Linked DNA regions of Homo sapiens. The protein of the gene in region 2 purifies or fractionates together with the protein of the main gene of each other region. This does not show direct contact. Each region holds a gene or a part of one and is shown on either strand. Other genes may lie near its edges.

Evidence for each region.
Region 1: the proteins of KCTD17 (region 2) and PIP5K1A purify together in Homo sapiens (affinity purification with mass spectrometry; 4 studies listed by BioGRID and IntAct, with this or other methods). This does not show direct contact.
Region 3: the proteins of KCTD17 (region 2) and PPP1R9A purify together in Homo sapiens (affinity purification with mass spectrometry; 3 studies listed by BioGRID and IntAct, with this or other methods). This does not show direct contact.
Region 4: the proteins of KCTD17 (region 2) and POLK purify together in Homo sapiens (affinity purification with mass spectrometry; 4 studies listed by BioGRID and IntAct, with this or other methods). This does not show direct contact.
Region 5: the proteins of KCTD17 (region 2) and PTPN4 purify together in Homo sapiens (affinity purification with mass spectrometry; 3 studies listed by BioGRID and IntAct, with this or other methods). This does not show direct contact.
Region 6: the proteins of KCTD17 (region 2) and ZMYND8 purify together in Homo sapiens (affinity purification with mass spectrometry; 3 studies listed by BioGRID and IntAct, with this or other methods). This does not show direct contact.
Region 7: the proteins of KCTD17 (region 2) and RECQL4 purify together in Homo sapiens (affinity purification with mass spectrometry; 3 studies listed by BioGRID and IntAct, with this or other methods). This does not show direct contact.

Annotation. Positions count from the first base shown.
Region 1 is NC_000001.11:151,201,183-151,205,440, reverse strand, and holds part of PIP5K1A (phosphatidylinositol 4-phosphate 5-kinase type-1 alpha), read right to left. Parts: intron 1,636-4,258; exon of another isoform or gene 1-1,635. UniProt on the Homo sapiens protein: Catalyzes the phosphorylation of phosphatidylinositol 4-phosphate (PtdIns(4)P/PI4P) to form phosphatidylinositol 4,5-bisphosphate (PtdIns(4,5)P2/PIP2), a lipid second messenger that regulates several cellular processes such as signal transduction, vesicle trafficking, actin cytoskeleton dynamics, cell adhesion, and cell motility.
Region 2 is NC_000022.11:37,054,255-37,058,512, reverse strand, and holds part of KCTD17 (BTB/POZ domain-containing protein KCTD17), read right to left. Parts: intron 2,194-4,258; coding exon 2,102-2,193; intron 1,116-2,101; coding exon 1,020-1,115; intron 1-1,019. UniProt on the Homo sapiens protein: Substrate-adapter for CUL3-RING ubiquitin ligase complexes which mediates the ubiquitination and subsequent proteasomal degradation of TCHP, a protein involved in ciliogenesis down-regulation.
Region 3 is NC_000007.14:94,913,887-94,918,144, reverse strand, and holds part of PPP1R9A (neurabin-1), read right to left. Parts: intron 1-4,258. UniProt on the Homo sapiens protein: Binds to actin filaments (F-actin) and shows cross-linking activity. Binds along the sides of the F-actin. May be involved in neurite formation. Inhibits protein phosphatase 1-alpha activity.
Region 4 is NC_000005.10:75,591,449-75,595,706, forward strand, and holds part of POLK (DNA polymerase kappa), read left to right. Parts: intron 1-2,429; coding exon 2,430-2,601; intron 2,602-4,258. UniProt on the Homo sapiens protein: DNA polymerase specifically involved in DNA repair. Plays an important role in translesion synthesis, where the normal high-fidelity DNA polymerases cannot proceed and DNA synthesis stalls.
Region 5 is NC_000002.12:119,762,352-119,766,609, reverse strand, and holds part of PTPN4 (tyrosine-protein phosphatase non-receptor type 4), read right to left. Parts: intron 1-4,258. UniProt on the Homo sapiens protein: Phosphatase that plays a role in immunity, learning, synaptic plasticity or cell homeostasis. Regulates neuronal cell homeostasis by protecting neurons against apoptosis.
Region 6 is NC_000020.11:47,240,968-47,245,225, forward strand, and holds part of ZMYND8 (MYND-type zinc finger-containing chromatin reader ZMYND8), read right to left. Parts: intron 1-4,258. UniProt on the Homo sapiens protein: Chromatin reader that recognizes dual histone modifications such as histone H3.1 dimethylated at 'Lys-36' and histone H4 acetylated at 'Lys-16' (H3.1K36me2-H4K16ac) and histone H3 methylated at 'Lys-4' and histone H4 acetylated at 'Lys-14' (H3K4me1-H3K14ac).
Region 7 is NC_000008.11:144,514,967-144,519,650, reverse strand, and holds the start of RECQL4 (ATP-dependent DNA helicase Q4), read left to right. Parts: upstream 1-1,817; 5' UTR 1,818-1,866; coding exon 1,867-1,950; exon of another isoform or gene 1,951-2,015; coding exon 2,016-2,049; intron 2,050-2,142; coding exon 2,143-2,237; intron 2,238-2,460; coding exon 2,461-2,601; intron 2,602-2,886; coding exon 2,887-3,663; intron 3,664-3,760; coding exon 3,761-3,887; intron 3,888-4,193; coding exon 4,194-4,325; intron 4,326-4,408; coding exon 4,409-4,501; intron 4,502-4,578; coding exon 4,579-4,684. UniProt on the Homo sapiens protein: An ATP-dependent DNA helicase which unwinds dsDNA with a 3'-overhang in a 3'-5' direction. Does not unwind more than 18 bp of dsDNA. May modulate chromosome segregation. The N-terminal domain (residues 1-54) binds DNA Y-shaped DNA better than ss- or dsDNA.

The DNA.
Region 1 (4,258 bases), on a different chromosome or scaffold from region 2:
ACTTTGGGAAGCCAAGGCAGGAGGATCGCTTGAGGCCAGGAGTTCAAGGCCAGCCTGGCCAACATGGGGAAACCCCGCCTCTACTAAAAATACAAAAATTATCTGGGCGTGGTGGCGCACGCCTGTGATCCTAGTGACCTAGGAGGCTGAGGCAGGAGAATCGCTTGAACCTGGGAGGCAAGGGCTGCAGTGAGCCAAGATCGCACCACTGCACTACACTGGTCTGTAGCCTGGGCGACAGAGCAAGACTCTGTCTCAAAAAAATAATAAATAACATTCTAGGAGAGAACAATTTAAAGGATAAAATTACCACCTTCCCTCTCCCCAGTTTGCTAGCTGGCCTGGTATTATCTCTGTTGTTCACTTCACAGGCTATAGTTTCCACTTTATTATCCAAGAAAAACAGGCTAATAAAATATTTAATAGCTATTAGGTAGCACATATTTGAGCAAAGGTATTAATCAGAAGAGTTTTAAATTAACCTAAAAAAGCCCACAGACATTAATAAGCAAAACGTACTATTTTGATATTCAACGCTAACGTGTAAGTACACATTATCAATTAATATCAGAAACTGGATACCTATTAGACTAGTTAATTATAACTGACAATGGGCTTGAGTGTCATGGCAGAAATAAATCGATCAGAAGCAATGACATTCTGATGTCAGTTTTCTGGCAGAATATACCAAGGTGACAAAAGGAAAAAGGGGTGGGTGGAAAGTGTCAAAATCCCTATGGAGAGTAAACAGAAAAATATCTCCCTATTTATAAAATATCAACCAAAATGGCACCTGGTGATATTCTGACATTGTATTCTATGTTTGCATTTCTAAATTTCAGTTTATCATTCAACATGATCTAAACTGCTTTACTTTTCACTAAGAGGAAGAACTAGGAAAGAAATCAGCCTACAAATGGCTTACACTGTACACAACAGAACACAGATCAAAAAAACATCCACAGGCCGGGCGTGGCGGCTCACGCCTGTAATACCAGCACTTTGGGAGGCTGAAGTGGGCAGATCACCTGAGATCAGGAGTTTGAGACTAGCCTGGCCAACATGGCGAAACCCCGTCTCTACTAAAAATACAAAAATTAGCCGGGCGTGTTGGCGGGTGCCTGTAATCCCACCTACTCAGGAGGCAGAGGCAGGAGAATCACTCAAACCCCAGAGGCAGAGGTTACAGTGAGCCGAGATCGCGCCATTGCACTCCAACCAGGGCAACAAGAGCGAAACTCCATCTCAAAAAAATATATATATATATCAACAATAATCCCTACTACTGGAGTTAACAGATTACTGCAGGTTACAGGTAGGGCTCTGCTGGGAAGAACAAAGCAATCAGAATCACAGACTGATGAAGCTGTCCCTACTATAAAAGTCCCAAGCAAAAATGCTCCAATACTGTATCCTCTGGATCTCCCTGAGCCGTTAAGGGGGAGAAAAAGTCAGGTAAGCAGCTGTAAAGTTATGTCTAAATCATTTGTGCACATGATAAAATCATATAGGTGAGCGATGACCATTTTAAAAATGTTCTAGTCTGAAGCAAAAGGAACTACACAGCTCATGATTATCTAGGGTTTAAGTGCTTTTCTTTTTTCTTTTTTTTTTTTTTGAGACAGAGTCTCACTCTGTCTCCAGGATGGAGTACAGTGGCGTGATCTCAGCTCACTGCAACCCGCGCCTCCTGGGTTCCAGCAATTCTCCTGCCTCAGCCTTCCGAGTAGCTGGGACTACAGGAGTGTGCCACCATGACTAGCTAATTTTTGTATTTTTAGTAGAGACGGGGTTTCACCACGTTGGTTAGGATGGTCTCCATCTCTTGAGCTTGTGATCCGCCCACCTCGGCCTCCCAAAGTGCTGGGATTACAGGCGTGAGCTACTGCTCCTGGCCTTTTTTTTTTTTTTGAGATGGAGTTTCACTCTTGTCCCCCAGGCTGGAATGCAATGGTGTGATCTTGACTCATTGCAACCTCTGTCCCCCGGGTTCAAGCAATTCTCCTGCCTCAGCCTCCTGAGTAGCTGGGATTACAGGTGCCTGCCACCACACCCGGCTAATTTTTGTATTTTTAGCAGAGACAGGGTTTCACCATGTTGGCCAGGCTGGTCTCAAACTCCTGACCTCAGGTGATCCGCCTGCCTTGGCCTCCCAAAGTGCTGAGAATATAGGTGTGAGCCATTGTACCCAGCCTCAAGTGCTTTTCCTTGAGGAAGTCACACATGATTTTACTCCACAACTCTTATTTCATAGGAGCAGTGTACACCTTAGTATCCTATCCCTTCTAACCCAACCACTAACTTCAAATCAAGCCTCCAAGACAGAAATTCTTTACTCTCCTCATGGTGGTAAAAAGGGCATAAAGTAAGGCCAGCGGCGGCGGCTAAAGCCTGTATGTACCTCAGCACTTTGCAAGGCTGAGGCGAGAGGATCACCTGAGGTCAGGAGTTTGAGACCAGCCTGACTAACATGGTGAAATCTGATCTCTACTAAAATACAAAAATTAGCCAGACGTGGCAGGTGCCTGTAATCTCAGTTACTTGGGAAGCTGAAGCAGGAGAATCGCTTGAACTCTAGAGGCTGAGGCTGCAGTGAGCCAAGATTGCTCCACCGCACTCCAGCCTGGGCGACAGAGAGAGACTCCCTCTCAAAAAAAAAAAAAGACTTTACTGGCAGGGCATGGTGGCTCACGCCTGTAATCCCAGCACTATGGGAGCCCGAGATGGGTGGATCACCTGAGGTCAGGAGTTTGAGACCAGCCTGGCCAACATGGTGAAACCCTGTCTCTACTAAAATACAAAAATTAGTCAGATGTGGTGGCAGGTGCCTGTAATCTGTTACTTGGGAGGCTGAGCAGGCAACTCGCTTGAACCCGGGAGGCTGAGGCTGCAATGAGCCAAGATCACCCCACTGCACTCCAGCCTGGGTGACAAGAGCAAGAGTCCACCTAAAAAAAGAGAAAAAAGATTTTATTTGCGATTGGAAGAGAGTGTTTCTTTGTCTGCATGGTACCAGAGGAATTAGGAAGTTGGCAGGAACAAGTGATGGTTTATGATTTCCTGAATTGTTAAAGGCTAGAAGGCTGGCCCTGTAGAAATTCAAGAAGTGTGCGTGTCAACCACCCTAAAACCATTTACTGTTCTTAGCTGTTTAGCTGAACTCCACTTAAGTTTTGGTGAAACTCTGAAATCCTAAAGGACAATGTTCTCTGACAATGCTGAAAATGGATATAAAACAAAAATGTCATAGCCAAGGACATATTGACAGTTTTTGATAAGCCACTCACAACTTCTAGGCACTCCCAATCTTCTGGCATTTAAATTGGGAAGGAGAGGTTATTTAGGAGAGTTTGTTCCCTGCCAATATTAAAGATAGTTTCACCATTAAGCTGTCAGCTTTTACACTGTTGACAAGTGAAATACACAGAGTAAAGCAAACCATAAGCTCTAAGAGATGTTTAACTACTTTTGCTATTGGAGCAATTACCATGTTTGGATTTGGTGGAGGCCATTATAATCTTTCCATAGTCCATCAAGAGCTTGAAATTTAGCCACTTTTTGCCCCCTTTTTTTTGTTTTGAGACAGAGTCTTGCTCTGTCACCCAGACTGGAGTGCAGTGGTGTGATCTCGGCTCACTGCAACCTCTGCCTCCCGGGTTCAAGCAATTCTCCTGACTCAGCCTCCTAAGTAGCTGGGATTACAGGCCTGCGCCAACATGCCTGGCTAATTTTTTTGTATTTTTTAGTAGAGATGGGGTTTCACCATGTTGGCCAGGCTGGTCTCGAACTCCTGACCTTGCGATATGCCTGTAATCCCAGCATTTTTGGAGGCCGAAGTGGGCGGATTACTTGAGGTCAGGAGTTCAAGACTAGTCTGGCTGACATGATGAAACCCCATCACTACTAAAAACACAAAAAAATAAAATAGCCAGGCATGATGGCACATGCCTGTATTCCCAGCTACTTGGGAGACTGAGTCAGGAGACTCATTCGAAGCTGGGAGGCAGAGGTTGCAGTAAGCCAAGATGGCACCACTGCACTCCAGCCTGGGTGACAGAATGATACTCTGTCTCAAAAAAAAAACCACAAAAACATTTATACAATCTGTATTATTAACTGTTAGTGAGAGGATCTGACAGAAAACATAAAGACCTACAAAAATACCAAAGAGTACAAAGCAAACACCTGACTTAATAGTTGAGAAGTTTGTTTATGGACCATACACAACCCTTCTTCTTTCTGGGTTGGGGATTAGAGG
Region 2 (4,258 bases):
TTTCTAATGATTTGCATGACACTAATGCCAACATAGGGAGTCCTACGGAGGGCTGTAAGCTTTACTGATGGCCCTTCTAATCTCACAAGAGTCCTACAGAGGAGGTACTGTTAGCCCACTTCACCGATGAGGGAACTGGGTCCCGCACAGGAGATGTAACTTGCCCAAGGTGGCAGGCATGTCTGTGGCAAGGCCTAGAGGTGAAGCCAGGCCTCTGGCTCTGCACTAGGCCCATTCTTCCATCCCTCCAGGCCATCCTGGGGGCTCCGACCTTCTGCCTTGCAGTCTCCATGTGCCAGGGAACGTGTGGGTGGGCGTGGAGAAAGGCTAGCCAACCCCCTCTCCTTCTCTAAAGGCACTTTTGACCCTGGGCTCACTTTCTGGCTCTGCTCCTCTGGAAACCTGAAAGGTGGGAGGTCAGCTGCATGACTAGGGATAAAGTCCCTCGGGATAAGGATCTCCCGATGGGTAAACTGCATCTGGACTGGGAGGAACCACCGTTCACCATAAAGACCTCATGGGAAGGCACTGCTTTGGGCTCCCCTGCATGTTGCAATGCTGGCCACTGGGCATGTCCCCTGCGGAGACCCTGAAAACTGTGTCAGGAACTGCTATGATCGCATGATGCTGACTCTGAGTTCTAAGAGGTACTGACTCAATGTGGACTCCACTCACCTATGTGGATCTGGTCTCCTTGCACCTGAGCTGTCCTTCGGGGGCCACAGACTCACTCATGCCACCAGATAGATCACCACCCAGTTGCTGTGAGGACTCCCACCAACAAGGACACCCCGTGCTGTCCTATGGCCACTGGGGCTCCTATCCTCTCTCTCGGTCAACCTGCCACCAAGTGTGGTCTCTCCTAACCTTGTTTAATTTGATTTCAGAAGAACCCTGGGGTTGGGGGAGACTGTGGTGGGGAACCCAAGGCTGGGGCTGCAGGAAGGGAGGGGCCTGCTTGGTCAGAGGCTAGGAGGTCCCAGGGTTGTCCTGGTGGCACGCCCCTGTCCCCAGCGCACCTGCTCGAAGCGCCAGCCATCAGACATGGTGGAGACCATTTGCGTGAGCTCCTCCTCCTGGCACTGCAGCACGCGGTACACGTGCTTGGGTGGGACCTGTGGGCAGAAGGGTCACATAGAGGGCACCTGTGGGAGCACCAGGCACCCCAGGAGGGGCATGAGCACCTGCTGCCACCACCCCCGCAACATACCCAAAGAAGAAGAGAGGGAGAGAAAGAAGAGGTGGTTGGGGGGAGGCAGCCATGCTCTGAGCACCTGCTCCTCACCAGGCATTTACCAGGCACCATCTCACTTAATCCTTCCAAGAATCCTAGGCATTACGGGACTTTCCATTGAGGCTCAGAGAGGTCCAGTTACTTGCCCAAGGTCACCCAGCTCAAGGGTGAAGGAGACAGAACCGGAACACGGGTAATTCAAGAAAGAACATGGGTGGGGCTTAGGGAACATTCTGGGTCACCCTCAAGGAGTCAGGCCCTCAAGGAGACACGGAGCCTCCCCTCTTTAATCCCCTGGGCCTGAGAAATGGTTCCTCACTACCTGTCCCCCAACCCTCACACATCCCCCAGAGTAGGCGGAAAATCTCTTTCCCTCCTCCTGCAGACTGGCCAGGGAGGCCCAGGCTCCAAGGTCACAAACGCCAGCCCCAACAGCCTGTGCCGAGCCCACCAGGCGACCATCTGATGCCACAAAAGGCACAATTTGCTAATCCTGCATTTTCCTCTGCAGGGCACCCTGTACCTCCACACTGACCCCCTTCTGCCTATGAGGAAGGGATGGGTGTGCCATTCCCACCCCTCTCTATCCCATAAGAGAAAATCAAGGTCCGGAGAGGGCGAGCCTGGCCCAACACACAGCAAATGGGGCTGAGACAGGGACTGAACCCCAGTGTCCGTCTCCGAGTCTGGGGCTGTGCTGGGCAGCCTGTCAGCCCAACCATGCCTCTCCTTACAGGCCAGCTCGGCCTCCCCATGACAAACACTGGTCCTGTCTCTCCCAACCTCCTCTGCTTCCCGCCCCGTCTCTCAGCCTCTCTCTCCCCACTGGCCCCTGCCCTGGCCGTGTGTGCTGCCCCTGCTCCCGACCTGGGTGACCGTGTAGTCCTTCTCTTCCATCCGGTCTTTGATGATGCGGATCAGCGGGCCGATGTTGTAGAACTCGGCTTCCTCCAGGACCCCTGGCACAGACAGAACAGATCCCAGGTCACTCCTTCTGCCTCCATGCCCCATTCTCCTCTTGTTCCCTCCACCCCGAAACCCACCTCTCGCTCTGATCACCCGCCCTGAGGGTGAGCTGAGTGTCTGTGAGTTCAGGGGTCAAGTAAGAGGGAGCATTTCTTTCCTTGGATCCCACACTTCCTGTGGAAGGGGCTGAGGGGCTGCCACACAGCTCTGCTGTGCTGAGTGCGGTGACCCAGGGGTACCTGCCAGGCCACCGTCTGGGGCAGCTTTAGGGCTATCAAGAGACAGCAGGGTCATTGGGACTGATCCCCAGAATGTCACCATGAGCAGGGCCTTGCCTGACCCCTGATTATGTGCTCCTATTTATTAAGCACATTCTAAGTGCCAGGTGCATTACATTTTTGAATTCTCAGAACTAGAAGGAGGTACTTTCATCATCTGCATTGAACAACTGGGAAAACTGAGGCTCCCAAAGAGAAGCAGCTTGTCCAAGGTCACACAGCTGGTAAGTGCCAGAGGGAACTCAAGCGCTGCAGACTCCAGAGCCCATGTCTCCCCACTGTAAGCACATACCCTTGTGTCCATGCATTCCCCCAACTGCCTCACCTTACAGTTTGCAACACCCTGCACGAGCTCATCACAAGTCCAGGGATATGAGGAGAGCAGGCATTACTGTCCCCATCTTACAGTTAAGTTAATCTGGGAGATGAAGAAGTCAGCCCACCAGTGAAGCGATGAGCTTGCAGCTGTTTCGACTCCCCTAGGCTCCCAGAAGGCAGGGGACCTTTGGGCCCTTTCCTTGACTGGCCTCTGGGCTCCCTGGGGACAGAGCTCATTATGAGCAGAATGTGTGTGTTCCCCAAAAATCCACCTGCTGAAAACTGTGATGGGATTAGGAGGGGAGGTAATGAGATCATGGGGGTAGAGTCCCCAGGGTAGGATCAGTCTTCTTATAAGAAAGGCTAATTGGATGTGAGGGCGATCTGGCGGGGACATCTGTCACTCCACTGATCACCAGGGTTGATTTAGCTGATCTGGCTGGCTAGATGTGTGTCCCCTTCCTCCCTCACTGCTCCAGGTGTGTCCCTCCCGAAGCTGTGAGCTCCATCGAAGGGGGCGACCACCCCCGATAGAGGAGGACCGGACTTTGGTCAAGGGTATGTGAGTAGCTGCGCTCCCCTGCTAGAACCTCCAAACAAGCTCTCGAGAAGGGGCGGGCGAGGGCTAGCTCCCTCTCTTTCTGCCATGTGAGGACACAACGAGAAGTCAGCAGTCTGCAATCCGGAAGAAAGTCCTCACCAGAACCTGCCACAGTGCCCCGATCTCGGGTTTCTAGCCTCTAGGACCAAGAGAAATAAATTTCTGATTTTCATAAGCCACCCAATCTATGTTACTTCATGATTGCAGCCTGAAATGGCTAAGATGGGGCTCACATTTCTGATCTGCCCTCTGTCCCCGGTGCCCACACAGGACCAAACACAGAGCAGGAGGTCAGGGAGTGCAGCTGCCTGATTACGAGAATTATCCCCAGTGCCCTGGGCGGAGCCCTGCAGGTGACAGACAGCTAGCACTGCATCCCACATCCTCCGGCCAGGAACTGAGCTCCATGCTGCACTATTAACTCCTTTTATCCTCATGACAGCTCGGTGAGGTGGGTGCTATGGTCCCCCATTTCACAGATGGGGGCATGCAGACACAGAGGGGTTAGGTCACTTTCTCAGTGTCACACAGCTAGTAAGTCTCCTCTCAGATCCCCTATCCCCTGGATGAGCCCTAGCCCTGTGTATCCCCTAGCCCCCGGATAGCCCTGCGTGATCCCCTAGCCCCCGGATAGCCCTGTGTGATCCCCTAGCCTCCGGATAGCCCTGTGTGATCTCCTAGCCCCCAGATAGCCCTGTGTGATCCCCTAGCCCCCAGATAACCCTGTCTGATCCTCTAGCCCCCAGACAGCGCTGTCTGACGGTGTGGGAATAGCAGGGCTTTGAGAATGCAGGGCGTGTAAACAGGTGCTGGCTGCGACGCAGCTGGGGTGTTTACTTCCCTCCCGATGGGGCCTGCTCC
Region 3 (4,258 bases), on a different chromosome or scaffold from region 2:
CCATAGCTATAGAATATAATGAAGCAAAAGAACAAAAAGAAAATAGGTCCAAATGAGAGCATAGAAAATCAAGAAAAATATCAGGTAAATTAGATAACAGCATAAAAAGCAACAATCTATAGTAATGTTTGTTTTGTTTATACAGAATTTATCCCACATCTAACTATATTTCTCTATGAAAATTCCTAAACTTGTTTTCAAGTGGTAGAGAAAGTGTTAGAAAAAAATCTAATGCAGATGAGATTTCAATCAAATTACTTGTAATGGGCATATTAACTGGGTTAACAAGGTAAACGACACATGGATAACATAACACAAAGTGATTTTCCTCCAAATTTGGCATCTTATCTTTCAAGTACATGAACCCAACAATTAGTGTCATTTGTGAGAAAGTTTAGAGGGAACACAAAGTATGTATGATCCAAAAAGCAAGCAACTGCTGGGCACAGTGGCTCATGCCTTTAATCTCAGCACTTCGGGAGGCCAAGGCAGGAGGGTCGCTTGAACCCAGGAGTTCAAGACAAGCCTAGACAACATAGTGAGACTTCATCTCTACAAAAAAAAAAAAAATAATAACAGGCATGGTGGCGCTTGCCTGTAGTCCTAGCTGCATGGGAGGCTGAGGCAGGAGAATTACTTGTGCCCCAGAGGTCAGGGCTGCAGTGAGCCATGACTGCATCACTGCACTACAGCCAGGGTGACAGAGCAAGACCTTGTCTCAAAAAAAATTAATTAAATTAACAAAAAACAAGAAACTTTAAATATTTCTATTACAAATAAATACCAGTAAACATCTGAAATAATCTGCTGTCAAAAGAATCCCTTTTTAAACACTAAATGATCACTGTTCAGTTTAAAAGTATAGCTATACCTCTGGATTTTAGAAAAGGGGTTCATTCAACAAATCTTCATTATTTGATTTTACAAAGTATATTAAAATATTTGACATATTTCATTTACCTGGTTATGAAGCATAGGTCATAAAACATAAAAATTTAAAAGGAAATCCAATTTAAATGTTATACCATCGGCTGGGCACAGTGGTTCACGCCTATAATCTCAGCACTTTGGGAGGCCAACGCGGTCAGATCACTTGAGGTCAGGAGTTCGAGACTAGCCTGGCCAACATGGTAAAAACCCTGTCTCTACTAAAAATATAAAAATTAGTCTGGAATAGTTGTGCATGCCTGTTGTCCCAGCTACTCAGAGGGCTGAGGCCTGAGAATCTCTTGAACCCAGGAGGTGGAGGTTTCAGTGAGCTGAGATCGTGCCACTGCACTCCAACCTGGGTGACAGAGCAAAGCTCCCTCTCAAAAAACAAAAAACAAAAAACAAACAAAAAAAAAGTTGTACCATCAAAGTTATCCAAGAAAAGCAAGTTAAATCATATGACCATTCTTATACTAAGTTTATTAATTTACACTTGCAAAAGAATGAAAGAAATGAAATTTCTGATTCCATTAAAAACTTCTTCCTCCCAACTTTTTATAACTAAAAACTTAAACCACACAAAGAGCCTAGGATGTGACTTTTTAATGACCCAAATGCCTTGAGTTAAGGATAATAATCCACTTTGGGATCCAGAAACAGAGTATTCATGCACTTTACAAGATTATACCTTATTTCATCTTCAGAGAATATTATTCCACCCAACCAGATATAGCAGCCCATCTGGAAAGGAAATTTATTACATGTTGCTTCCCTAACATGCTATGGCCAGCCACTTTCAGAAGCCAGAAGATTGTACTTCAAATTCATATTCCAAAGAGTGATCTCTTGATCAGCGGCATCGGCACCACTTGAGAGCTTGTTAGAAATGTAAAATCTAAGGTTCCCCTCCAGACATACTGTTAACGTGGTTTTCCTGTATTATTTCAGAATATGAAATTCTATTATAGAGGTAAACAAAACTAATGGGATGGATGAAACACTTAAGAAGTGATAATCATAGATGGTAAATAAACTAACAACTTATGAGACAGAGGCAACACTCAGGCTGGGCCAAGTATTGATAATGAGAATGCAAGCTGGTGAAATGAAGGCAGTCAGCAGATGCGTAATAAATAGGTAAGCTGGGAGTAAGACATGACAACAATAAAATAAATAGAAATTATGATAAAATGAATGAGATTTACTTATAGACAAAAAGCAGTGGAAATACCAAGTCACCATTATGCCTGGACTGATAGCTACATTACTTCCATATCAGTCATCTACTGAAGACACCAAGGATGGTCCCATGGCTCATCAGCAGGCAAACTAGCAAAGCTACGGCTGTACCTAAGTGTATTTGTCACATCTCTTCAACAGAACAAGTGTGTATCATCGACCCAGGAAATCATTAGTCTATGGAGTCTTGGCTCAAACATCAGCTCTGGTCCTCATAACCACATCATTAATGGGGAAGGGTTATGTGAAAGAAAGATGGGACATAGGAACATTGTTTATCCAGGACAGGTAGCGTGGTCCTTCCAACCTGGTTTGAACCTGAAGTGTGTTAACTTACTCCATAGCTTTCCTCTTGCTTCTGGATTTGTGTTTAACTGGTTTGGTAAATCATGTGATTCAAGCATTTTAATTTGTTTTCTGAGTCTTCTATTCCATAACCTCTGAGATAGCTTGCCTGCTGGTGTACTTGTAGCTCAACCATTGTATCAAGGTAATTTCCCATAGAATACCTACTGAATCAGAATCTTGATGCTAACAAGATCTCCCAAGTGATTCATATGCATATTAAAGTTTAAGAAGCACTGACAAAACTGTTATAAAGGAAGCCTCCGCAAAGACAAAAAGTTGGATCTCAACAGAACTATTCCCTGAAAACCATCCTGAACAAAAAAACTTCATATATCCATGAATGCCCTAACTATGACTCGGAGCCCCCAAAAAGGGAGAGAATACAAGAAGATCCATTTTCAACAACTATCATGTAAGGTTTGAAGAAGCTCTGGTGCCCTTGCTGATTATTTGAATTCTAATCCTGTAAAGCTCCATATGATTTGAGAAAACACAAAATATAGCACAATGTACCTCAATATTAACTCTGCAATATCCTTCTTACTGTGAGTTAGAAAAATCTTTTTCAGATATGCTGTTTCAAGAATAACAATCCATTGTAACACAATAGTATTTGAGGGGAAAAAAAAATACCAATCCAAAGGACATAAGAAACAGAGAAAGGTTGTGACTTCCTTAATGAGGCTGCAGCAACCTTAGAAAGATCATCAAAGCACAGAGTTGGGAACAGCCTGAGAGCTTCCTTAATGGGCTGTACACGTCCCACCGACCAGCAGCTCCTTACTTCATCAGCTCCTCATTTTATGTATTTGTTGTATTTGTTATATTTGCATTGTCCCTGACACATATTAGGGGCTCCATAAATGTTCTGAATTAGTAGAAAAAAATGACATGTCACCCTCTCTTGTTTTGATTCATCTAAGACAAATTTACTTTAATTCAATCCTTTCATTTTGAAAAATTCCTGAAAATGAAGGCATAATTCCATCTCGAATTAGCATGGTCCATAACATTCTCCCATGCCATATCTCAAAGTTGGATTTTAATTTGCTATTATTAATCCCATTCTAATATTTCATGACCCTATGAAACATAACAATCTATCTAATAAGAAATAACTGTCTGTGAAAGATAGGAAAGTCATACTAACTGATGGCTGGCAATACAGTCTGACCATTTTTAAAAATCAAGGTATATGTACAAGTACAAGGTATATGCTACACAGGAAAGATCAACTATTATTCTGATGTTTTTCTAAGTCCAGATTTAAGACATCTTATGGAAATATCTATGTAAAACATCTATAAAAAGAACTGAAGTAGTCACTGAGGACAATATTACACATACAAAGATGATAAATAAGATCTATAACAAAAAACTAAAGGTGCTAGGAATTTTTAACCTAGTACAGAATAAAGTGACAGCCAGGAAAAGAATGTAAAAGTTCTAAAAATCATTTATTTAAAGAATACATTCCCTGTTGCTTCTTTAAGAGGAAGTATGTTTAAGCTTCAAAGGAAAAGACTGAGGTTAGGAATTGCAACTTCCCATTCCATAAATAAAGTTTTATGAAAAGAATAAAGAAACACAGATAGAAAATGGTTGCATGTATTCCTTTCCAAATAATCTATCAAATCCCTTTCACTATATGCATTTAGTACAACCAAGTGCCACTAAAGGACTCACAGGACATTAAAAATTTTGGCATAGTTTTTTATACTGTTTTTTATGGATTTTAAAT
Region 4 (4,258 bases), on a different chromosome or scaffold from region 2:
TAGATTTCCAGAAAAGTCACAAAAATAATAGAATTTCAGCATACTCCTCACCTGGTTTCCTCCATTATTAACATATTACCAGAGTACATTTGTCAAAAATAAGAAACTGACATTTAATACATTGTCAATTATTAACCCCAGACTTTATTTGGAGTTTACTTATTTTTCCATTAATGTCGTCTCTGCCTTCCAGAATTCAGTCCAGGGGACTACATTGCATTTAGCTGTCATGTCTCTCCAGTTTCCTGGTCTGTGATAGTTTCTTAGTTTTTCCTTCTTTTTCATGACCTTGACAGTGTTGGGTAGTACTATACAGGTATTCTGCAGAATGTCGCCCAATTTGGGTTTGTCTGATGATTTTCTCATGATTAGATCAGGGTTATGGATTTTTAGAAAGAGTATCACAAAGAGGAAGTGTCCTTCTCATAACATCCTATCATGGGGTGTATAATAGCCACATGATGTCATGGTTGATATTAACCTTCATCACTTGGTTAGTGTTTGCTAGGCTTCTCCACTGTGAAGTTAGTGTTTTTCCCTTTGGAAGTAAGTCAGTAAATCTAACTACCCTCAGATGAGAGAGAGCAGGAATTAACTTCCTCCTCCAGGGGATACTAAAATATACATAACATAAAATTTACATTTTAACCATTTTTAAGTGTACAGTTCATATTGTTTTATAACCATCACCACCACCCATCTCTAGAACTGTTTCATTGTCTCCACTGAAACCCTGCACTCATAAAACACTAAGTGTAAAGGGAATTCTTACATTAAATTGTTTGGCATAGCATCTGGCAATGCAGAAGGCACACAATAAGTGTGAACTATTCATAAGTCGTTTTCAGTGAGACACTTTTAGAAAGATTTTTTTCCTTCCTTTGTAGGTAATTAATCAACCTCCAAAAGAGATTCAGTAAAAATAAAAGTGATCATTTAACCTTTCCCTCTTGTAATGGTCTTTTATAAAAATTCAGTTGGGGGGCCAGGCACGGTGGCTCATTCCTGTAATCCCAGCTCTTTGGGAGGCCAAGGCAGGGGGATCACCTGAGGTCAGGAGTTTGAGACCAGCCTGGCCAACATGGTGAAACCCCATCACTACTAAAAATGGTGGCGGGCACCTGTAATCCCAGCTACTCTGGAGGCTGAGGCTGGAGAATCACTTGAACCTGGGAGGCAGAGGCTGCAGTGAGCCAAGATCCCGCCACTGCACTCCAGCCTGGGCATCAGAGTGAGACTCTGTCTAAAACAACAAAAAAAAAAACAAACAAAAAAATTCAGTTGGGAAGGGGAATAAAAATTACTGGCTAAAATGGGATTTTAGGTCAGGCATAGTGGCTCATGCCTGTAATCCCAGCACATTGGGAAGCTGAGGCCAGAGGATTGCTTGAGCCCAGGAGTTCAAGACCAGCCTGGACAACATAGCAAAATCACGTCTCTACAAAGAAAATGTAAAAATTAGCTGGGCATGGTGGCACGAGTGTGTAGTCCCAGCTACTTGGGAGGCTGAGGTAGGAGGATAGCATGAGCCTGGGAGGTCAAAGCTGCAGTGAGCCACGATCATGCCACTGTACTCCAGCCTGGGCAATAGAATGGGACCCCCATCTCAAAAACAAAATAAAATGGGATTTTAGCTTATGTTTGGAAAGGGAAGTAAACGTTTTTGGCTAAAATGGTATTTTAATTATTCTTTTTTTTTCTGAGACAGAGTCTTGCCCTGTCACACAGGCTGGAGTGCAATGGTGTGATCTCGGCTCAATGCAACCTCCATCTCCTGGCTTCAATCTATTCTCCTGCCTCAGCCTCCCCAGCCGCTGGGATTACAGGTGCCTGCCATCACGCTCAGCTAATTTTTGTATTTTTATTAGAGACAGGGTTTCACCATGTTGGCCAGGCTGGTCTTGAACTCCTGACCTCGTGATCCGCCCGCCCAAAATGCTGGGATTACAGGCGTGAGCCACTGCAGCCGGCCTCTTATTCTTTATGATATGTTTATCACCATGTTTTATAAATAATTGGTTATAATTCCATATTCTTATGTCCGTAAACCTTTCTGAATTTTTCTAACATGTAAATGACTTTTTTCTAGAAGTTAGGAAGTCATACAGAATAATGTATTCTGGTTGGGTGCAGTAGCTCATGCCTATAATCCCAACACTTTGGGAGGCCAGGATCGCTTGTGGCCAGGAATTTGAGACTAGCCTGGGTAACATAGTGAGACTCTGATTCTACAAAAAAATAAAAAATTAGCTGGTGTACTGGCACGCACTTGTAATCTTAGCTACTCAGGAGGCTGAGGCAAGAGGATTGCTTGAACCCAGAAGTTGAAGGCTGCAGTGAGCTACAGCTGTGCCAGCGCACTCCAGCATGGACAACAGAGAGAGACCCTGTCTCATAAATAAATAAATAACATATTGTATATGTTATAGGGTAGAACTGTTACCATTAAGTTGAAGAATGTGAATTTTGAAGTAAAAACTCGTGCATCTACAGTTTCATCTGTTGTTTCTACTGCAGAAGAAATATTTGCCATTGCTAAGGAATTGCTAAAAACAGAAATTGATGCTGATTTTCCACATCCCTTGAGATTAAGGCTTATGGGTATGACTTTTTCATTTTTTTGTTTTTCCTTAAATCTGCTAGATTTTCCCAAATAATCAACTTTGGGAATACAGGGGGCCCCCAACTTAACAATGGTTCAACTTAATGATTTTTCAACTTTGCGACAGTGGGAAAGCTGTATGCTTTCAGTACACTCTTGACTTACAAGGTGGTTACATCCCGATAAACCCATCATAAATTGAAAGTATTGTAAATTGACTTATTATGTTTTCAATTTACAGCGGGTTTATCTGGATACAATCCTACTGTAACTCAATGAGCACCTGTATTCTCGCCTTCATTTTATTTCTTAAACCTGTTTACGAAGTTCTTCCTTTGCTGCTGCCATTTGTCTTAGTTATTAGACCCTGATGTGTGAAGCCATGATCATTAGTTTAATTCCAGTAAGGGTCAATTAAAGTTGTTATTTTCCTTATAACTTAATGAAATTCTTGTGGCCAGGTGTGTTTCAAAATTCAAAACTTTTCAGATTTTAGAAAGCAAATTCAGTGCATGTAGAGTATATTACGTTGTAATACTTCTTTGTGGATCTGGGGCAACACCCCCTGTTCAAACACATTAATATTTCTGTAGCAAAACAAAATATTCAGAGACTGTAAAGACTGATGACATTAATTTAGTCATCAGGTATCACTTGTTGCTTACAATTTTCAGAACTTTTTGGATTTTGGAATTACAGATAAAGGATTGTGACATTGTGAAATCACATCTCCAGCCACTACATGGTAAAAAGTAACAAGCCATGTTTCCAAAGTGTACTGGTTGAAAGTATATATGTGGATCACCACTCCAAATGCACATTTTACTAGTAAGGAGTGGGTCACTAGCCATAATTTTATTTATGAAAGATATAGCACACACTGAAATCAACTGAATAAAGTGTTAATTGAAAGAGCCAGGCTGGGCGCGGTGGCTCACGCCTGTAATCTCAACACTTTGGGAGGCCAAGGCAGGTGGATTGCCTGAGGTCAGGAGTTCAAGACCAGCCTGGCCAACATAGTGAAACTGCATCTCTACAAAAACTACAAAAAATTAGCTGGACATGGTGGCGGGCACCTGTAATCCCAGCTACTTGAGAGGCTGAGGCAGGAGAATCGCTTGAACCCGGGAAGTTGCAGTGAGCTGAGATCACGCTGTTGCACTCCAGCCTGGGCAACAAGAGTGAAACTCCACCTCAGAAAAAAAAAAAAAAAAAAAAAAAAAGCCCAAGAGCAGATATCTATAGAAGCTTAATTCATAATTGCCAAAACTTTGAAGCAAGCACGATGTCCTTCGGTACGTGAATGGATAAATAAACTGTGGTACATACAGACAGTGGAATAATATTCAGCACAGAAAATAAATGAATTATCAATTCATGAAAAGACACGAATGAAACTTAACTGCATAATGTTAAGTAAAAGAAGCCAGTCTGAAAAAGCTAAATACTGTGTGATTCCAACCATATGAGATTCTGGAAAAGGCAAATATGAGTACCATAAAAAATAATTGATTGTCAGGAGTTAAGAGGGGCAGGAGGTATAAATAGGCAAAACACAGGAATTTTAGGGCAATGAAATGATTCCGTATGATTCTATAATGACACGTCATTATAAATTTGTCCAGCGCCCAGGATGTATTCCAAGGGTGAACCCTA
Region 5 (4,258 bases), on a different chromosome or scaffold from region 2:
ACCTCTAAATTGTTCCTGAATGTTAATGCTGATTTCCCAAGAGGCAGACTAAATGCATGTTTAGGGCACCAGTAACGCAAGGGCACCAAAGAGATATTTCACACACACACACACACACACACACAGACACACACACACACACACACACACACACACACACGCGCGCACATGCGCATACACCAGTGAAATGGGGGAGGCAGCGGGTAAAGGGAGGGAAAAAGAGAGAGAAAGAGGAAGGTGACTTAAGAATTCTTAAGTTTACCTTAAGCTTACTTTAGGATTTGATATTTATTTCTGATTCCATAGTGGATGCCAAGGGTGAGTAGGAACCATAAACTTTCTAATACTTACAGTCTCTAAAACAGTGGTTTTCCCAATCCTTTTCCCAACTTGGCAACAAAGAAAATAATAATTTCTTAGCACGTTGGGATAAGCCACAAATGCTATTCAAAGCCAAAAGAAACCATCCTGGGGCAGGGTGGGGAGGGGGATCTGATATGCCCAGGTCCCATTAAACAAGGGTATCTTGCTCTCCGAAACACTGGTAAACCATTCATGGCACACCAGTTGGGAAGCTCTATTTTAAAGGTCTTAAAATGATCCCACTCATTGCCCAAACACAAGGACCCTCACAAGACTTCATTTCCCACTGCAATCAACGCACATGCGCGCGCGCACACACACACACACACACAGATTCACACACAGGAACAGACAACCACACCCACCCAGACAGAGACAGACATATCCAACAAGACAACTTACATTTCTCCAAACACACCACACATTCTTTCATACTTTGACTTTTTCTATATGCTGTTCTCTCTACCCAGATCAATTCCAAATGATCCTCCAAGACCATATTCAAATGCCACTTCTTTTCCCCAGATCTTATTACACTGTCACTATGAATTGTTAATTGTTTGTTGACATGTGTTACCACCCTAGAATTTGAGCTCAAGGACAAGAATCATGTCTTATTTACCTTTATACCACTGCTCCCACTACAATGGGCATTTCAAATGTTTGCTTAACATATAAAGGAATGTTCATTACATCATCACCAAATAAATTTTCAAATTACATTAATTAAAACAATGAAATACAATTATAAAATTAGCATTTTTTTCTTCCCAAAACAAGAACAACCACTGTAGGTACTTCTGTAAGAGAGAGATCTGGCACAGAAATATTCATGACACTTGACCATTATCCCAGTCCTAGGGTTTTAAACTGAGGAAATAAACAAAAAACCGCTTAACAAAATGTAAATGTCTAAATCAGTTATGGTATATCACCTGAATGTTTAACTAATCACTTAAATTATATTCATTGACCTTGGTGGCTTTGGGTAGCTAAAATAAATAAATAATATTCATGAAGATGGGAATAGAAAAATGAAAAAATAATACCAACTATCACTGACTGATCATCTCTTGTATTTAAAGCACAGCGCTAGATGCCTTACATATAGTATCTTAATCCCCACAATTCAAGACCACCTGACTCAGAAATGAGACACTTTGCCCAAGGCTTTTGACGCTAGATTCCACACCAGATTTGACTCCTGACTCAGAAATCAGACAGTTTGCCCGAGGTTTTTGACGCTAGATTCCACACCAGATTTGACTCCAAAGTCTGTGATCTTTCCCCTACATTGCACAGCCTCCACCATACAATGTTCCCATTATATTCCTCTCAAAATTCTCTCTACCACACAACTTTATTTTTTAAATATGAACAATTACCTGGAAAGAAACAAAAAATAGCTATTATGGTGGTGATCAAGGGTAAACGTTGTTACAGTATTTATCCTTTTTAAAAATTAGCAACTTTTAAAAGTAGCATTGTTGAAAAATGAACTAAATTCATAAGACAATACAAAAGACGCTATTCCTATTTTAATTTTTTTAACCTAAGAAAATTAAGGAAACAGAGTAGGTAACATAAAAACTTAAGAAAAAAAAAAAGCTTAAGAAGATATTAAACTATATCTAAACAAGCATATATTAACCTTAGGGTACTTATTACCAGGATTCATTAACTGATCCTTGTGAGTGGATTAAGCAGCATTCTTCCAGAAACAGGTGAATTTTGAAAAAGGTTTAAAGAGGAGGCACATGAATTGGAGACAGAGATGTTTAAATTATGGAAACGAGGACAAAGGAAAAAACAAGACTATTTTCTTTTTAAGCACGAATGAGAAACAAGGTTAATGAGATGAAGTTGGTAGAAAGTCTTCAAGGTCAAGCAGGTAAATTTGGGATTAATTTGATAAGCACCGGGGAACTCCTATATATTTTTAAACGGGAAGGTGGCATGTTAAAATATGGCCTTTAAAGATTCAAACTTTGTTCCATCATAAAGTACTGCCTTGAGTTACACAATGTTTTTGCCGAACAGTTGGGGAGGTGGGGAATAATCCACTATCCTTTATGTGTGCTTTATACATACGCTTCTCAAAAAGAGAAACTGACTAAACAGAAATCTTTAGGTAATGGGTGAGCATATTGGGGAGGGGATCCTTTCAGACATAATGCTTGTGAATATTGAATGCTACTGTATGTTTTAATAACAGTCACAGAACTTCAGGCAAGAAGGAACCTTGGAGATAATCTCTTAGTGGCGACCCCTTCATTTTCACACCAGATTAGACTGAAGCCCAGAACTAAACAACTTGCCCAATGCCATGCATAAACCAGTGGAAGATTAAATACTACAACTCAGATTTTCTAAGCAGTCAGACCTAAAGCTATGCTCTCCAATACTATAGCTACTAGCCACATCTGGCTATAAATTTAAATTGATTTAAATTAAATACAATTTTAAATTGAGTTTCTCAGACACACTCGTCACATTTTAAGTGCTCCATAGCCACACATGATTAATGGCTACCATAACTAACAGTGCAAAAAATATTTCTATGATATTTGTCAATTATACTTCAATAAAGTTGAAGGAAAAAAGAATATTTCCATCATTGCAGAAAGTTTAATTGGACAGAACCGATCTAAAGAATAAGTTTTAGAGAATTCCACTTACTAGAAGTATGAGCCTAGACAAGTTATTTCATTTCCCTTAGCTTCTATTTGGCAGGGAGAGGACAGGGGATTAATAATACCTACCTCATAAAGCATACTTGGTGAGTGGGACAACATGAAAAGCCCCTTATACAGGATCTGACACTTAACAGACAATAAATATTAACACTCTTCCCCTCTGGGTCCTTTTTTCTTTCTACTACTCTATATAACCTCCTTGTTAAAAAATACAAACACAATAACCAACCCAAATTGATATTTTCCTCATGATAGTCTATACGATGTAATTTTCATTTTGTTCTTACTAATTAATTCAAATACTTGCATCTCTCTTCCAAAGTTTCTACTTAAGAATAATGAAATGAAGAATGAATGTGAGGGAAGATATCTCTAATGAAATGAAAGAGTCTAATAAATTTCCCCTCCTCTTTTTCCCCATTCATGCAAAAGATAAGAAATTATGCTGTTCCTAGACAATGGTACTTTCATATCAATAAAGAAGATTCTACGGTATTTCTACATTATATCCTATCTCATCATCTATACTACTCATTAAATATTAAATGAAGAGATAACACCTCCTTCCTACAGTGCTTTCCTGGCAAACAATAAAAAGGATTTTCAGAATGCTAAGCCAAACTTCAAGGCTTCACAGCTTATTCTAGTAAACTGGCAAATTTAACAAATCTGGATTATAGTACATAAAAAACTTCATAACATGCAATAACCCAGGAAAACAACAAAATTCAACTCAGTTAGTAAACTTCTACCAATAACTAAATTTTACATAGGAGCAACAATTCATATTTAGCCACAATAACCATTCCTAGGGAGTTGATCAATTTTGCATTCTAACTAAGAATTTAGGCAAAACTTTAAAACATTTGCCCCTAAACATACACCAAACAAGATTTCCACGTTTCTGGAAAACTTTTCTTGTTTAAAAGTGGCCATATTAACTCTCAAGCGGGGGGCAGAAGTACTCTCAATAACAAACCTCCTTGCAATTTTCTGCTAGTCTCTTACTTTGCTCCTTAAAGACAACTTACTAAAAACCATGATCACTGATCCCGCTTTTAGAGTTTGTAAGTCATAAATAAATACTAAACAGATAACAATGGATACTGTACTGTACACCTCAATTATGTTTAACAGACAAAACTATTTTAAAAATACAAATCACAGTTTAATAACAACCTAACGAAGTCATACAAGTT
Region 6 (4,258 bases), on a different chromosome or scaffold from region 2:
CCCGCTTTAAATGAGCTTAATTTTATTTTTAAAGAATGAGATTCTTGGCCGGGTGCAGTGGCTCACGCCTGTAATCCCAGCACTTTGGGAGGCCGAGGCGGGCAGATCACGAAGTCAGGAGTTCGAAACCAGTCTGGCCAACATGGTGAAACCCCATCTCTACTAAAGATACAAAAAATTAGCCGGGCATGGTGGTGTGTGCCTATAATCCCAGCTACTTGGGAGGCTGAGGCAGGAGAATCGCTTGAACCCATGAGGCAGAGGTTGCAGTGAGCCGAAATCGCCCCATTGCACTCCAGCCTGGGTGACAGGGCGAGACTCCGTCTCAAAAAAAAAAAAAAAAAAAAGATTCTTTAAATAAAAAAAGTCAAAAATTATACAAGCAGGACTTGAGAACGGGAAAGACAATGAATGTGAATGACTCAAGTTTGAAAAACGCTGCCATATGGAGTATGTCATCTTGGAGGAGCTGGGCTGGTGGGGAATAAAGGGTAGGATTTCAACAGGCGGAAAGTGAGAATCTGGAGGGAACAGCATCAGCCAAGATATGTCTAGGAATACAGAGCATTTGAGTAAGTGAGGGCAGGCAGGGAGGAGGGGCTGGAAGGGAGGTTAGAGCCAGAAGCACTGAGCAGCACGTAGAGGCGATGACCACACGGGAGCTCATTTGTAAAGGTGGCTCAGTTATGGATGCACAGGCCTCAGCCCCCGGTAAGGTGAGCCTATGCCCCAGAGAGGATATCTGGGGAACACACACCACACCCAGGTACAAGCCAGCACCCCGATCTTGGACTATGCTCCCTGACATCAAACTCCTTTAAATAAGGATTATGTCTGCCTCTTTTTCTTTTCTTTTTTTTTTTTTTTTGAGATGGAGTCTTGCTCTGTCACCCAGGCTGGAGTGCAGTGGCGCGATCTCGGCTCACTGCAAGCTCCGCCTCCTGGGTTCACACCATTCTCCTGCCTTAGCCTCCCGAGTAGCTGGGACTACAGGTGCCCGCCACCATGCCCAGCTCATTTTTTGTATTCTCAGTAGAGGCGGGGTTTCACTGTGTTAGCCAGGATGGTCTCAATCTCCTGACCTTGTGATCCACCCGCCTCGGCCTCCCAAAGTGCTGGGATTACAGGCGTGAGCCGCTGCGCCCGGCCTATGTCTGTCTTTTTAAGATCAGTATTACCCAGAAAAAGACATGAGCCTGATTACTCCAGCAAGGATTTTCATTCAGTAAGCTGTGGGTTTTAAGAAGCCAAGGAGGGAAAGAGACAAGCTGACTATCCCGACTTCAGAGGGCGTTCTCGATGGTTATCGAGATGTTGCTGGCCCTTGTACTTCCCCAGAGAGGAGAATCCAGCCAAGCTGGTCAGCAAGAGCCTGGGGTGGGTCTGGAAGGAGAGCTTCCTGCAGTGAAGAACTCCGATGCTTCCAGGGCCACCTGCCAGATATGGGGCACAGTCCCCGCCTCTTCCAGGTGGAGATGAGGTGTTGAACTGGGCCCTTCTAAGAGGAGGGCAGGGGGCAGTGCCTTAGCAGAGCTTCTAACCCACGTAAGTGCCTTCAATGCCTTCCTTTCCTGCCACATTACCAAAAAATATACTGTTATTGTTGATGAGCTAGCCTGTCTCCCCACCGTAAGGGCAACCGCAAAATGGTCGTTTTCTCTCTCCTGATTTGCAAAAGCAAACAGCCAGCAGGGCGGAGGGGTTACTGCTCTGCAGTGATCACAGCTGGCTCTCTGCCAAATAAAGAACTAGAGTATACAATCCGATAAGATTCCAGGCTCAAAATTGTTTGAAGTTATTTAGATATCAAAATATTTAAATTTCCAGGAATCCTGATGGTTTATGGAGACAAAATGAGGCTACAGGAAATTTCATTTGTCCCAGAAATCTGGAGTACATAATCAATCACCTGTAGCGGGAAAAAAAGGGTGAATTTTTTTTTAAAGGGTCAGCACCTGAGAAGCTGCCCTATCAAATTAACCTACTTAATTCCTGAATTTGTCACTGGTCACTGTTTTTCATTTATAAAGCAAGGACTTTTTAAGAGAAAAATTAGCATCCCCTTTGTAGAAGGATGGAAATTACTGATGTGCCAGTGAAAGCACAGCGAAGAGTCTAAGTGTGCTCTCTTTGCTTCTGTTCTGAGGTTATTAGCTATAAAAGCTGTTTTGCCATCTGAAGATTCATATTCTACCCATAAGCTGCATCCCTAGTGGAAGGTAAGCTGGAGGTCACAACAGCGCAATCCAAAATGCCCTTCACTTACTAAACTCTTAAGTGAAAACACATCATTGAAAAGATGCTCTCTAGCGGAGTCTGACACGAGAATTTTTCAAGACCCAAACCACCATCAGCTCTGAATTTAAGATCAATTGGTTTTGCCCCAAGCCTTAGGAAGCTGCTCTAACTGAACTGTGTTTTAGAATCATCTTCAGCTTAATTGTCCACCATCTACTAAAGCTTCCTGGAGAAATTCCCTTCAGACATCAATGTGAGGAAAAGTTCTACTTCTTTTAATCAACTAGAATGGTTTTTTGTTTTTTTGGAAAGTATGAGATCTTCTAAGGTACTGTGTTTCCCATTCTGCTTTCAGAGCCAACTTCCCTAACTCTGAAGATTGAAATAGTACAGATTTCTGTATAAAACCTTTCCCCAGACCACTTGCTATTCTACCTTCATTTTCCTTTTACATGGATGTCTTTATTTTCATCTTGTTTCATATGGTTATGTATCCTTGTCAATCTGTTGCAAATTCTTTCTGGAAGAGGTAGGGGCACAAAACCAATCAATCAAAAGATCTGTTCCAGAAAGAAAGAACAGTATAAATATGTCACTCATAGGAGCACTGCCATCTGCACCCAAATATTCCTACGATCCTCATGAAATAAATGCTACTCCTATTGTTCTCTGCAACAACAGAGACAGTCTCTCAAAACCCAATCCATAACATACTCATATTTTTCAGAGGCCATCTATAAATCTAACAGATGGGTCGGGATGGTTTGATGGCCTATCCTCCCTCCCTTATGTAACTGTATCTCTCTCTTCCTCCACTGTACCTCTCACAGACATTCTCTTTAGCTGAACTGCAGGAATCCTCTCTCACTCTGACAGCTGAGGTTCCAGAGCAGCCCAGGTTGACCATAACCACAGCAGAAAGATTCTCAAGGCCCATCCCTGACTTGCTTTAAGCCACCAGACAATGGAAACCCCAAAGGACATGGAGTTACATCTTATTCAAGGGTTTCATTGACAAGTTAGCTCCTGATAGAAGTTAGGCACAGTCAAGATTTAAACCTGGCTATCCCTTAAGTCACTCGCCACATACATAAGGTTTTATGGCTACAACCTGTAATTTGTCCTGGGGCAATGTTTCTTCTGGGCCCTTAGTTAATTCTTCAGTATCTTTATTGAGCATGTTGAATCCTCTAACCTAATTGCCAAGCCAACTCAAAAATGTGCTGAATACTTTGTCAGTGGGAAGGACATCCTTCCAATCATTCCCACACCCCTTTTGTTGGGCTTGTTAACATGCCCAGGCTGCACTAGGCTGTGGGGTAGTCACTGCTGGTTCAGAATATAACCGTAGCCTCTGAGACTCAGGGGATATTTGGCAATATTTGATTGCCACATTTGTGACTGCCACAACTGAGCAAGTAAGGTTGCCATCTGGCTGGTAGAGGCCAGGGATGCTGGAAAACATCCTCCAATACACAGGACTAAGAATTAGCCAGGGCAAACTGTCAGAAGTGCAAGGTTGTGAAACTCTGAGCTAAGTTAAATGCAAATAAGATTAAAAGCCAGTAAGGCCAGACGCAGTAGCTCATGCCTGTAATCCCAGCACTTTAGGAGGCCGAGCTGGGTGGCTCACCTGAGGTCAGGAGTTTGAGACCAGCCTGGCCAACATGGTGAAACCCTGTTTCTACTAAAAATACAAAAATTAGCCAGGCGTGGTGGCAGGTGCCTGTAATCCCAGTTACTTGGGAGGCTGAGGGAGGAGAATCACTTGAACCCGGGAGGCGGAGGTTGCAGTCAGCCGAGATTGTACCATTGTACTCCAGCCTGGGCGACAAGAGCCAAATTCTGTCCGCCCCCCCTCCCCAAAAAAGCCAATACACATATCCACCATACTCCATTTTCTAGTGCCCTAAGAAGCACTCAGTATTCTGGCACCAATCACCCAAATACTGTCCTACTACTGTAAGAAAATACACTTGGAGATGCCTAGGTGGCATGAGGGGAGGAAAGCAAAGCTGAA
Region 7 (4,684 bases), on a different chromosome or scaffold from region 2:
GCCACACACAAGTGGTAGGAAGGCCCAGCATAGTGCCTGAAACAAAGTCAGCAGTTAGCAGTGGCCATGGCACAGAGAAGCACCTATTAGATGCCTAGCGCTGGGCTGGGTGCAGTGAACTGGCAGACAAACTCACAACTCAGCCCCAGCCCTCCAGATGCACAGGATCTCTTTAGAGAAACTAAGCGTCAAGCAGTGTGGCATCGTCAACAACTCGCTTGCTTGGGTATGCTTTTGACAGATGCCTGTTGCCTTGCAGGGCCCCCCATGGGTACTTCAGGCCTCTCAAATTACAAAGCTGCTTCACAAAACCTTCTTCGAAACCTGAATAAAGCCCAGGACTCTCCCCACCAACCTTCATCAGCATTAGTATTGACGGGACACTCTAAGGAGTCAAGCAGCCAAATCACCTTTCCCTCCCCTCTCCTCACAGATGCTCTCCAGGGCTACACTTGGACTCCACAAAACACCAAAGAGCTGGAAGCACAGAAGCAGCTTCATAAGCAACAAGGCAGGTTGAAAAGACCGAGACCCAGGGAACACCGAGTCCAGATGATGTAGCCTATAAAATACAAGCCCCCGCAAAAGCTACTATTCTCCAGAGCGTCACCAAGCACGGAGACCCCGAAAGAAAGCAACCCTCACCTTTGTTGGCCCTTACCACTGGCCTAAACCTCTCCCTCTTCCCTGGAGAGCCACTGTGGAAAGACCAAGTCTTAAGTATGTGGGATTCAGAAGGTGCAAAGCTACAGACTGCTCAGACAAGGCAAAGAAAGCTGCCTCAGCAGCACCCAAGCTGCAGAGATGCACAAACACTCCCAAGGCCACAAGGTACCTGTGACACAGGGTGCCAGCCCTGCTGCTGCCTGTAGCATCCTCAAAACTAAATCGCAGCCATCTCCCTGTGACAGATTAGAAAATGAAGGCCTCGGCCTGGCCCAAGGTCACAGCCTGAGTGACAAGCCAGGGAAGGGGGCCGGGGAAGACACTCTGGCCCCAAGGCCCTTCTTTTTGTCGACTTTTCCACATACAAGTAAGTCCTTAAGGCACCGGTTCCTGAAAAGTCCCAGACACCAACCCTCGGCCTAGTTCTGCCGGTGGACAGATCTCAACGATCATACTCGCTCTGACAGGACAGACCAACCGAGCACTTGTCACGGGAGAACACCAAAGCAGACGGCCTGCCCACCAAGGGAGGCAGGCACCTCCGTGCGACGCCCCCTCCCCTCCCGCCGGCCGCAGGGAACGCGACGGTCCTCGGTCGCCTGCGTTTCGCGAAGACGCCCCCGCCCGGCTCCTCCGGGCCTCGAGCCGCGGGAGGCGCTGGACCCTCCGCTCTTTCGCCTCCCGAGCGGGGCCTGCTCCTCCAGGTCGGATGCGTCTCCCACCAGGGCCTGACGCCGCTCCGACCGGCCCGGGGACTCCCAGTCCTTCCCGGCCCGCGGTGGCACCTCCCAGGCTCCCGGCCTCGGCCCCGGGCTCCCAAATGCAGCCACTGCCTCCCTCGGCCAGGCCGCCCCGAGCGACCGGTGCCCCGCCCCTTGAGGCCAGGCAGGGCCAGGGGCGTGCGCCGCCCCGCTCAGACACCCCCCCGGCCGCCCGCGCTCACCGGTCCCGCAACCGCAGCCACCGCCTCCAGCCCCGCCTAGACCGTCCGCCGCTCCCCGCCCGGCGCCGCGGCGCCCCGCGATGACGTTGACGCCTCCCATTGGCTGCTTGTCCGAGGCCCGACGGACTGGCTGCCCAGGGGCGGTGGCCCCGCCCCCGGCCCGCCGCGCATCCGCATTGGCTGTCGGCCCCCGCGACGGCTGCGCGGGAGATTCGCTGGACGATCGCAAGCGCGGAGGCCGGGCGGGCGCGCGCGCCATGGAGCGGCTGCGGGACGTGCGGGAGCGGCTGCAGGCGTGGGAGCGCGCGTTCCGACGGCAGCGCGGGCGGCGACCGAGCCAGGTGCGGGCTGCCCAGGGGCCGAGGGGCTGAGGGCGCGGCCCGCGGCTGACGCGTTCCCTTTACAGGACGACGTGGAGGCGGCGCCGGAGGAGACCCGCGGTGAGCGCGCGGCGGGGCGGCGGGGGCGAGAAGACACCGGGTCGGCAGGGGCCCAGGCCCCACCCTGACCCCGCCTCCCGCTCGCCCACGCAGCGCTCTACCGGGAATACCGCACTCTGAAGCGTACCACGGGCCAGGCCGGCGGCGGGCTCCGCAGCTCCGAGTCGCTCCCCGCGGCGGCCGAAGAGGTACCCAGGCCCCGCCGCCCCAGCCTCCTCCCACTTCCCTGTTTGGCGGAGTGGCGGGAGCCACGGAGTCGCGGCCAGGCCGCCGTGGGGCACAGAACTTGGGAGGGGGACTGGGCAAAGTGAAGAAGGGCCGGGCCTCGCTCCAGGTGCGGGAGGGGTGGCTGGGAGCGCTTCTGCCGCCACAACAGCCTTTTCTGGCCTGTGCCCCTGTTGTCTCCTGCAGGCGCCAGAGCCCCGCTGCTGGGGGCCCCATCTGAATCGGGCTGCGACCAAGAGTCCACAGTCTACGCCAGGGCGGAGCCGCCAGGGCTCGGTGCCGGACTACGGGCAGCGGCTCAAGGCCAATCTGAAAGGCACCCTGCAGGTGAGGAGTGGGCAGGCAGTGAGTCCACGCTAGGTCCACAGCTGCTTCCGGTCCGGGTCGCCCTCTTGTCATTTTTTCCACACAGACAGGCACGGGCCCCTGTGCCAACCAGGGCACGAGTCTTCAGGGAGCTTCTCGGGGCCTTCGCCCTTGACTCCCTTTCTAGTCCAGCCTTGTGCTAATTAGCCTGCTCTACAATTGAGCGTGGGGACTCAGGTAGGTTTTAGAGTCTACAGTAGCTCAGGGGCCTGAGTTCCTCCTGCTGTTCTGTTGTTCCCCTCCCAGGCCGGACCAGCCCTGGGCCGCAGACCGTGGCCTCTAGGAAGAGCCTCATCTAAGGCATCCACCCCAAAGCCCCCAGGTACAGGGCCTGTCCCCTCCTTTGCAGAAAAAGTCAGTGATGAGCCTCCACAGCTCCCTGAGCCCCAGCCAAGGCCAGGCCGGCTCCAGCATCTGCAGGCATCCCTGAGCCAGCGGCTGGGCTCCCTAGATCCTGGCTGGTTACAGCGATGTCACAGTGAGGTCCCAGATTTTCTGGGGGCCCCCAAAGCCTGCAGGCCTGATCTAGGCTCAGAGGAATCACAACTTCTGATCCCTGGTGAGTCGGCTGTCCTTGGTCCTGGTGCTGGCTCCCAGGGCCCAGAGGCTTCAGCCTTCCAAGAAGTCAGCATCCGTGTGGGGAGCCCCCAGCCCAGCAGCAGTGGAGGCGAGAAGCGGAGATGGAACGAGGAGCCCTGGGAGAGCCCCGCACAGGTCCAGCAGGAGAGCAGCCAAGCTGGACCCCCATCGGAGGGGGCTGGGGCTGTAGCAGTTGAGGAAGACCCTCCAGGGGAACCTGTACAGGCACAGCCACCTCAGCCCTGCAGCAGCCCATCGAACCCCAGGTACCACGGACTCAGCCCCTCCAGTCAAGCTAGGGCTGGGAAGGCTGAGGGCACAGCCCCCCTGCACATCTTCCCTCGGCTGGCCCGCCATGACAGGGGCAATTACGTACGGCTCAACATGAAGCAGAAACACTACGTGCGGGGCCGGGCACTCCGTAGCAGGCTCCTCCGCAAGCAGGTAAGACAGCGACGGGCCAGGACAGGCATTCCCTTTCCCTCCCCTCAGCCCTCCCGTATTTCCCGCCCAGTGACCCTCCTATGTGGGCACCCCCCAGGCATGGAAGCAGAAGTGGCGGAAGAAAGGGGAGTGTTTTGGGGGTGGTGGTGCCACAGTCACAACCAAGGAGTCTTGTTTCCTGAACGAGCAGTTCGATCACTGGGCAGCCCAGTGTCCCCGGCCAGGTGAGACATCTGCCCTGGAGGGTGGGTCCGGCCAACACTGTGGAGAGGGCGCAGTGCTCTTTTGGGGGACACTTATGTTCCAAGCAACAGGCCTTCCAGGTACCCCTGGTCCAGGCCCTACCCTAGCTCCCCTGAAGGAGGGTGGCAGGGACGACGATGGCTGTCACTCTTTTCTGCTTTGGAAAAAGTAGCCCAGAGGAAGGGCACTGCCTGCTGCCAACCCCCTTTGGGGGAAGGAGAGGTTGTGGCCAGTGGTTGTCTTGCCCGACCTGGAGCTCCCATTCTACCCTCTCCTGCCTGCCCCAGCAAGTGAGGAAGACACAGATGCTGTTGGGCCTGAGCCACTGGTTCCTTCACCACAACCTGTACCTGAGGTGCCCAGCCTGGACCCCACCGTGCTGCCACTCTACTCCCTGGGGCCCTCAGGGCAGTTGGCAGGTGAGCAGTCAGCTTCTGGCCCAGAGCCTTCACTGAGGGGTTGGGGTGACTCAAGTCATGGTGATCAACATCTGTGTCTGCAGAGACGCCGGCTGAGGTGTTCCAGGCCCTGGAGCAGCTGGGGCACCAAGCCTTTCGCCCTGGGCAGGAGCGTGCAGTCATGCGGATCCTGTCTGGTGAGCGTGGCTGCCAGGGCTGAGGCTGGGCTGAGGCCAGGCTGCAGAACCCTGCTGCTGACTCCCGCCCCATCCAGGCATCTCCACGCTGCTGGTGCTGCCTACAGGTGCCGGCAAGTCCCTGTGCTACCAGCTCCCAGCGCTGCTCTACAGCCGGCGCAGCCCCTGCCTCACGTTGGTCGT